Regions from separate parts of the Homo sapiens genome. Here region 1 is reported to be linked to region 2. The links are microRNA targets in miRTarBase. Many come from high-throughput screens and were not tested one by one. Region 2 holds a microRNA gene; the other region holds the end of a gene's coding sequence.

Region 1 (4,396 bases), not on the chromosome of region 2:
AGATCTCTAAGAAGTCCGTGGGATTAATTTTAACAGGATTTATCTGTAGTATAAGACATCTTAGGTGGTAAAATCTCGAGATGTCTTTGGTATACTGATGTTAAACATTTAAAGTTCTTTTATTTTCCCTGCTTTTTATGAGCTGTTTATAAGTCGTTAATTAAATACTTATGTTTAATGCTAAGCAGTTCGGACAGTTTTCCAGAGCCAACTCTAGAGGCACATGCAAATTAGTTGCTTACCATTTCTGTCTAACATTTAATTTGCTGTTGCTTAGTTTCATTATCCCTGATATGAATCAAGTGAGAACAGCATCAAGTGAGAATGGCTCTTCTGTGGAAGGTTTTATGTAAAGAAGAACTATATAGAGAGGCAGGGCTTGACTCTGCCCTGCTGCAGTTGACCTGGCAGTAGCCAGCTTCATTGCAACCTCTGTTGAACATTAGTATAATAGCCCCTTAAGTTACTATCCTTTATTTTGAACTCTCTTTAGATTCATGAATCAGCATTACGAGCCAAGAACAGAAGACAGGTGGAAAAAAGGAAACTGGTTGCTCAAAGGCAGCGAGCTCACTCTGTGGATGTGGAGAAGAACAGAAAGATGAAGGCTTCCTCCTCAGAGAACCCGTGGATGACAGAATACATGAGGTGCTATTCGGCAAGAGCTTAAAGAAACACTTGCGTGGACAGCCTCTTTTAAAAAGTGTAAATGACTGAAAGGAAAAACAAAACAAAAACCATCAAAAGAAACGGACACAGGTTTAAGAAACCAACTGATTATGCAAGGTTTTTTTTAGGGAATTTGTAAAAGATTGTTTTATTTTGATGAATATTGGTCACCTACCTCGGCAGTAGGGCAGACAGTTGAAGCCATAGACATTTGGTTATTTATGAAGATAATTCCCTAAATCTTTGATATTCTTATAAGGTTTTTGTTTTAAAGCATCTTAATCTTTTAAGATACTGACACCAAATGCCTTTAAATGGCAACAGATGCTTACAGTTCAGTATTCTTTTCATAAGCTTAGGTAGAGCCTATTATCATCTTGTTCTAAATAACTTTCCAGATTCCATAGCTATAAGATCATTCCATCCTACAGCATAAGACTCGTTTTCCTTATATGCCGTTTTGTTTGTGAAAGAATATCAAGTCAAAAATGAGTGTCAGCACTACTACTGATTCCATGTATAATGAAAGTAGAACTTTGCTAGTTCCTGAAAATTTTTAACTTATTTGTATTTCAGTTCAGCAGCATCTTTATGTAGATTGTGATATTTAAGAATTATCTGGGCTGGGCGAGGGTCTCTTTTTCTCTTTCAGTGATCATCTAGGCAGTTATTATTTAATAGTTTAATAGCTCAAGTACATTCCAATAGACGAAGTGCACACAACACAATATGTGTGTACAGTAGTAGTAAAGTTTCTTTTGAGTAGTCAAAGACTCACTTTTTTTATTGCCTTTTTTTTTTTTTTTAAAGAATACATACTGTGGATTCAGTCCCTTGTCACACTTGACCTTTTGGCATACACCCACTGTGGACTTTTGCCTCTTCTGTAATGGCTGGCAATGACATTTCAAACTTACAATCTGGAATTGCACTTGGTACATTGGCATTGCTTGTTCCACTGGGATGGGGACCAGTGTGAAGATGCCTGTTAGATAGACTGCCCACCCCTACTTTCTCTTTTTCTTTATAGCACTTAACAATAACAAAGTCTTGATGATGTACAGTATTCAAACTTTAGGTTGAAATACGTTACTCTTTGATTCCTAGCCAGTAGATCTTATCTACACTTTAATGGGAGAGAATGGTGGTGTGTGGGTAGGCACAAATTTATGTAAATAGTGCTCCTTCTCTTTAGTATGTTTGCTTTGGGGGTAGAAAAATGGTTTTAACAAACACTGGTTTCCATCAAATGAATGATGTCTTCTCCATCCTGTGGAGACAAGAATCTGCTAGAAGGATATGTGCTAAGTTCCTTATAAGAGATAATGGTGCTCTGCCTATGCCAGCTTGGCACCCGAAGATGTGTGAGTGGACGTGAGGCTGAGTATTACCTTAGTATTTTTCTCTGGGTCTTTGGAAAACCATAGTCAATTTTTAGAACATATTGCTTTCATTCCCCATAAACTCTTCACACATGATAACTGTTTAAGCTTTGAAAACACATACTGAAGTATTGTGAGCTTAAAAAAACTTTTTAAATATTTGCATAGTTTTGAGGTGAATTTGTTTCCTTACAGATCTCTCCTAATCATTGAGATGTATATTTCAAAAGAGGAAATTTTACATGTTGTCCAAAACAGCCTTGCTAGTAACTGGTGAATTTTGGTATTAACTATTATTAAAGTCTTTAAACGACACAGGTACCTAAAGATCACCTTAATGTGGCAATTTGTGATGGTGTAGCTAGCTGATTGTGAAAACTGTTCCTTTAAAGTCGCTTCTTGCATGTTCGGTGTTAGTCATCCAGCTCAGGCTTGTGTTGCAGCTGACAATCTAGGAAAGACGGCCTTAGAGAGTGGTGCAGGCCCCACACTGACGGACTGCCTTAGAAACCCGACTTCCTCTAGACTTTGAACCGCCAGACTTTTCTCTTGTTTAGAAAACAAACTTATATTTAATGTACTTACTACTTAAAACTCCAGACAGAGATATAATGTAGAAGGCAAATATTGGCCAATTTTTTCCTCTTTTTAAGTGGAAGACAAATGAACGGGATTTTTAAAGTGCTTTTAAAGTGCATGAATGGTTAATAAATCAGTATGAATTGTAAGCCTTCATCTTACATCCAAGTCCTTAGTTGGTTAGGGTTTCTTTTCTTTCTTTTTTAAAGAGTGTCAATTACCTTTTGAACCTGTGAAAATTTGATAGTTGTTAACAGTCTGATGGTCCTAATTCTTTCTTTTCATTCTAGAAATGAATGTGGTTGTAATCATGTTCCTAATTCTTGGGACAACCTGCAAGACAGTGAGACAGTTTAAAAATTACCTTTCATGTTGAAAAAGTCTGAAACAGAGAACCCAATGATATTTAAAATAAATGCTACATAAAACTCTTTTTAAAATTTTGATTTTAACTTAATTAAAACAATGTCATAAATATGCTTTTTGATTTTGTTACTGCTTTTAATATTAAAGTAATAGAATATTGAAGCAATATTGTCTAGCACTCTGCTGGACATTAAGTCCGCGGGAGGAGAAGTGAACAGGAATCGATTCTTTGTCTTTTAACTGCCCTTAGTTAGGAGATGTTAAAATACTTGGCACCTCTGGTTATATGTATGTTATGTGTGTTCTCCCCCCTAAAATTTCTAAGCACATTTATTCACTTTTAAAATGAATCTTTAAAAGATTATAGTTAGTAGTTATAGTTAATATTCTATTTACTTGGAAAAATGTGAATAAATGGATCTTCAAAAGATTCATTTTAAAAATGAATAAATGTATAATAGGCTATAGGTGATCTTACTTGCGTATTAGGTAGGAGGCACATATTTATACCATTTCATATGTAATATCTTTGTCATTGTGTTTCATCGAAGATCAATTGCTAGCAACTTGAAGGGTATTTATACTTGGGTCACTTGAACTCAGCTGACTAAATTGTAAGAACGAGAGCAAGCAAGATGGCTGTTATTGGAAGCCATAACTTCCAGAAGATAATTCTGCACAATTCGTAAGTTAAAAAAAATCTGTAGGGTCTTCCACTATCCTTTTTCAGGTTGATAATGCTGTTCTGGGCACACACTTTGTAAATGGAATGTTATGGTACAGTCGCCTCTCAGTATCCATGGGGCATTGGTTCCAGGCCTCCCTTAGGATGCCAAACTCCATGGATACTCAAACCCCTTCTATAAAATGGTGTAGTATTTGCATATATCCTAGACACATCCTCCTGTATGCTTTAAATCATCTCTAGATTACTTAAAATACCTAATACAATGTAAATGCTCTGTAAATAGTTGTTATACTATATTGTTTAGGGAATAATGACAAGGAAAAAAAAGCCTGTACATGTTCAGCACAAGTGAAACCATCCTTTTTGCCCCCAAATATTTTCAATTTGTATTTGGTTGAATCCATGGATGCAGAACTCACGGATACAGAGGGCCGACTGTACTTTCTTTAAAGTGTTCAAAAGTATTACTAGCAAAGAGGAGGAGGAGCAAAGCATATATCAGAAGTAAAACAATTTTTCTTGTTGACTGCTTTGGTAAAAAACAGTTTGATGGATAGTTTTACATTTCACTGGACTAGATAAAAAATGGTGCTAATATTTATGTAGCTTGATGCTATAGTTGCTTTGGTATCAAACTTAATACCTAACCCATATAAGATCCTTATTATATAATTTTGTGATCAGTAAAATGATATTTTAAAGAGTGATCTTA
Region 2 (4,396 bases):
GCAGTCACATGCATCATTAAAGAAAAAAGAGAAACAGAAATCCAACGCACTCCGTTTGCAAATCACAAAGCAGCACTATGACAAGTGTCCCTTCTCCTGAATTTGGCATTGTATTCAGAAAGCCATCTGAGCAGTTAGTTGTTACTCAGAAGTATTCATCTAGGGCAAGATTCGTCAAAGGAAAATGAGATTCTCATGGGCCAACTCTCTCTGAATAAACACATGCTAACACCAGGAATCCAAGGGTCTTTCCATTGGCAAGAATCCCTAAAGGACACCAATGGACTAAGAGAGCAGTGGGGCTTAGAGGTCCCAGCAGCAAGTCCTGTAGCCACACTGGGTGCTCTGGGGCCTCCTTCCTGTGGACTGGCCTTCCCTCAAGTGGACAGTGAGGTCCAAAAGTCACTCCAAGGATGGGCTAGGTATGGAGAGTGGGTAGACCAGATGACCCACATCTACATTAGACATTGACTTTGCTGACGGTCATTCTTTCATGTATCTGGGAGATGCACTGACCACGAGACCTCTTCTCAGAGGCTGGCATCATGCTGGGCAGACCTGCCGGAGTAGCAGCCCATGGATGCTTTGTGATAAGTAGGGCCCATCAAGGGAGGCCCTTTGTTCTTTTCTTTTTTTTTTAACCTATTGTGTTGAGACAGGGGTCTCTGTCAGCCAGGCTGAAGTGCAGTGGCACAATCTTGGCTCACTACAACCTCCCAACTCCCGGGCTCAAGTGATCCTCCAGCCTCAACCTCCTAAGTACTGGGACCACAGGCGCACACCATGACACCCAGCTAATTTTTGTATTTTTTGCAGAGATGGGGTTTCGCCAAGTTGCCCACGCTAGTTTCGAACTCCTGGGCTTAAGCCATCCACCGTCTCAGCCTCCCAAAGGGCTGGGGTTACAAGCGTGAGCCACCGTGCCCGGCCAAGGTAGGCCCTTTTTGCTAGGCAGAACAGGTGGTCTGAAGAGAAAACCCTATATCATCTCCAAAGCCAGCATCTCTTCCAGAAAGTTCTTGGAAGGAAGCATGAGATGAGGAGGGTCAGAGAACCAGGTCACAAACAGCAAGACAGAGGCACATGCCCTGTGGTCAACCATCCACACCCCAGGGCTATCCTGGCCATCTAACAGGTTGCTGGAGTCAGCCTTGTTCCCAAGAAGGCTTCCCAGGCAGGATTTGCTCCCCAGAGAGAGTCTGCCCTTGTATAATCATTGCAAGTAAAGCAAATGCGTGAAGGATTACCTCTCTTCAAGTAGCAAATGATGGCAGTGACAGGAAGGCCATTTCCTCTGTGACTAAGTTGCCACCAGCTCCAGGAGCAAGCCTTAGAGACACAGATGGGATCTGCATGGTGAGAGCAGCACACCGAGGTGTGAAGTGCAGGCCCGTGGGTGAATCACACATCTATTCCTTCCATAGCCCCTGAAGCAGTGCCCCTTCCTGAAATTGACAGCCCACTCAGGTATTCTCTAAGGTACAACTAGTCACAGTAAAAGAGGTTCATTCCAGAAAATGCATTGCAATCATGGTAAACATACAGAGAACAAACTTCATTCAAGGTCAATGAGGCAATACTGAGAACACAGCCTTGTAACAACACATTATGTGTGCACCAAGGGCAGTGAGCAAACAGCAGAGAAGCTGACGGCGTATTTCATACAAAGTACAATTCTGTGTCTGTCCGTCCTGTACCCAGGAGGGGTACAGATAACATCTCCTCTTCCATGGCGACTTCACGTCCTCCGAGGTTTTCAAAGCAGCATTTGATACTGAAAACGTGGATTTTCCTCTATGATTAATCATAAATAATGTACTCATAGAAGGAGAATCTACCTTTTAAATACCAAAGAAGGATTCCATCCAGGAAAGCGTGCACCTGTGCTTGAGTCATCAGAAAAGAAAGTCACATGAGGCAGACGAGCTTCCAGGGAAGAACTGGCACCACGAGACCCACAATTTAATCTTCACCAAGTTGGCGTCTCGAGATGGTTCTCGGGCATACCCCGTTCATTCAGATACGACGTGCGGCCTACCATCTTTGCACCTACTCAGGCCCTACGGTCTCTTCCAGAAACATTTCCAAAGCAGCATTTGATACTGAAAACATGGATTTTCCTCTATGATTAACCAGGAATCACGTAAACATAGAAGGAATATCCACGTTTTAAATACCAAAGAAGGACTGGGCTCTGGAAAGGACAAATCTGAACACAGTTCATGGAAAATGGAAGCAAGACAGTAAAGCAACCGTTTTCAGTCCCGTAGCATAGCTGTGACAACACACCACAGCCTGTGCACCAAGCTGGCTCCTCAGCGAAAGGGGGCTTCTAAAGGTGATGGTCAGCAGACATATGGCACGAACTCAGCACATGTTCTGCGGCCCACCATCTTTCCACTTACCCTGGAGGGCTCAGCCCCACCTCACGTCCCTGATGGTGGCTTCAGTCCAGCCATGATCCCAAGGCAGCATTTGATACTGAAAACGTGGATTTTCCTCTATGATTAACCATCAAACACGTAACCATAGAAGGAAAATCTACCTTTTAAATACCAAAGAAGGTTTCATCCCGGAAAGCACGAACCTAAGTACAATCCATCAAACACAAAAGTAACATAGCACAGAGGAGAGCATTCGGCCTCATGGAGAAAATGACGACGGAGCCCAGCCGCTTGGCCGAGCGGGCAGCTTGCGAGAGGGGTCTCCTCAAGGCGGGTGGGTGGTCCGCAGACATATGGCACGAATTCAGCACATGTTCTGAGGTCCACCGACTTTCCACTTACCCTGGAGTGGGGGGGGGGACTTTATTGTCTCTTCCCTGATGGTGGTTTCAGTCCAGGAATGTTTCCAAGCAGCATTTGATACTGAAAACGTGGAATTTCCTCTATGTTTAACCATAAATAACATAAACATAGAAGGAATATCCACCTTTTAAATACCAAAGAAGGATTGAGTCCTGGAAAGCATGAACCTAAGCACAATCTATCAAAATTAAAGACAGCACAGGATAGGTGCAGTCGGCAGGGGCCTCCCGGGCTAGCGGCAGTGACATGGGCCCTGCGGAGGACGCATGTCCCAGGACAGACCTTGCTAACAAGAGCTTAGGTTCTGGGATTCACCTTCCATCACTCTCCGCATGGGGGAGGGAGCTAACCTTCCTCTCAGAAATGTTCAGAAATGTTTTAAAAGCAGCCTTAGATACTGAAAATGCGGATTTTCCTCTATGATTCACCATAAATCCTGTAAGCATAGAAGGAACATCCACCTTTTAGATGGGAAAAGTGGGAACAGCCCTGGAGAGCACAAACGCAAACATGATTCATGAAAGACAGAAGGTAACAGAAGCAGGTGAGCACTTTGCGAGTCCCACGTGGGAAGCGCAGGGCCCACCCCTGGCCTCTTCACATCCAGAGATGGAACTCCTATGCAGGCAAACGTAAGTTTGGGGTCTGCCCTGCTGTCACTCGTCTGGGTGGGGGTAACCCTAATGTCTCTTCCCTAATGGAGGCTTCATGGTCAAGAGCGTTTCCAAAGTAGCATTTAATTCTGAAAAAAAAAAAAAAAAAAAGTGAATGTACATCAAAAATTTGCCACAAGTAAAGCAGGCAAAGTAGGGATTCTATGCTTTGAATTCGAAAAATATCAAAAACAAAAAGAAAATAAGCCTGTCAGGTTCCTAAAGTCACATCGCCTCCATGAAGCCCTCCCAAGGCACCTAATGACCAATGTCATGTAACTGTGGGCTGGAGCATCCTTCACATACCTTGGAGGGAGAAGGACACCCAAGAATCTTCCAGAGACTGAAGCTTGTGTCCAGAAAGTTTCAATCGGCAGGACTGGTCATGTTGGTGTGACAGACTGAGGAATAGGCAAACAGGTCAAAAACAATGTCTCTTTAAATACAACTGAGAGAGGTAGCAAAACATGATGCTCACCAGCCCCTACCACCACCACCCTCCACCACCACCACCACCACCACCACCAACACCACCAACACCACCACCACCAACACCACCACCACCACCACCACCAGTACCACCACCACCACCACCACCACCACCAACACCACCACCACCAACACCACCACCACCATCAGTACCACCACCACCACCACCACCACCAATACCACCAATACCACCACCACCACCACCATCACAACCACCACCACCAACACCACCACCACCAACACCACCACCACCAACACCACCAGTACCACCACCATCACAACCACCACCACCAACACCACCAACACCACCACCACCAACACCACCACCACCACCACCATCAGTACCACCACCACCACCACCACCACCACCACCACCACCACCACCACCATCAGTACCACCACCACCACCACCACCACCAATACCACCATCACCACCATCACCACCAC

What was found. Region 2 holds the annotated microRNA hsa-miR-654-5p (UGGUGGGCCGCAGAACAUGUGC, at 2,371-2,392, opposite strand). A microRNA usually pairs through its seed, bases 2 to 8, with sites in the 3' UTR of a target mRNA and lowers its output. Matches are read on the target gene's strand: a 7mer-m8 pairs with bases 2 to 8, a 7mer-A1 pairs with bases 2 to 7 and ends in A, and an 8mer does both.
Region 1: miRTarBase lists CCSAP as a target of hsa-miR-654-5p. Seed matches in the 3' UTR shown: 7mer-m8 at 1,669-1,675.

Annotation. Positions count from the first base shown.
Region 1 is chr1:229,321,509-229,325,904 of GRCh38, reverse strand. It overlaps CCSAP (centriole, cilia and spindle associated protein), which reads left to right. Exons shown (of 4, transcript NM_145257.5): 4 at 494-4,396. The coding sequence ends at 670. Among named protein-coding and RNA genes, the nearest start is that of CCSAP, 19 kb to the left of the region's middle.
Region 2 is chr14:101,038,230-101,042,625 of GRCh38, reverse strand. MIR654 (microRNA 654) reads right to left here and starts at 2,407; the gene lies at 2,327-2,407. It overlaps MIR376C (microRNA 376c), which reads right to left and starts at 2,936; the gene lies at 2,871-2,936. MIR376A2 (microRNA 376a-2) reads right to left here and starts at 2,557; the gene lies at 2,478-2,557. MIR376B (microRNA 376b) reads right to left here and starts at 2,190; the gene lies at 2,091-2,190. It also overlaps MIR376A1 and MIR300.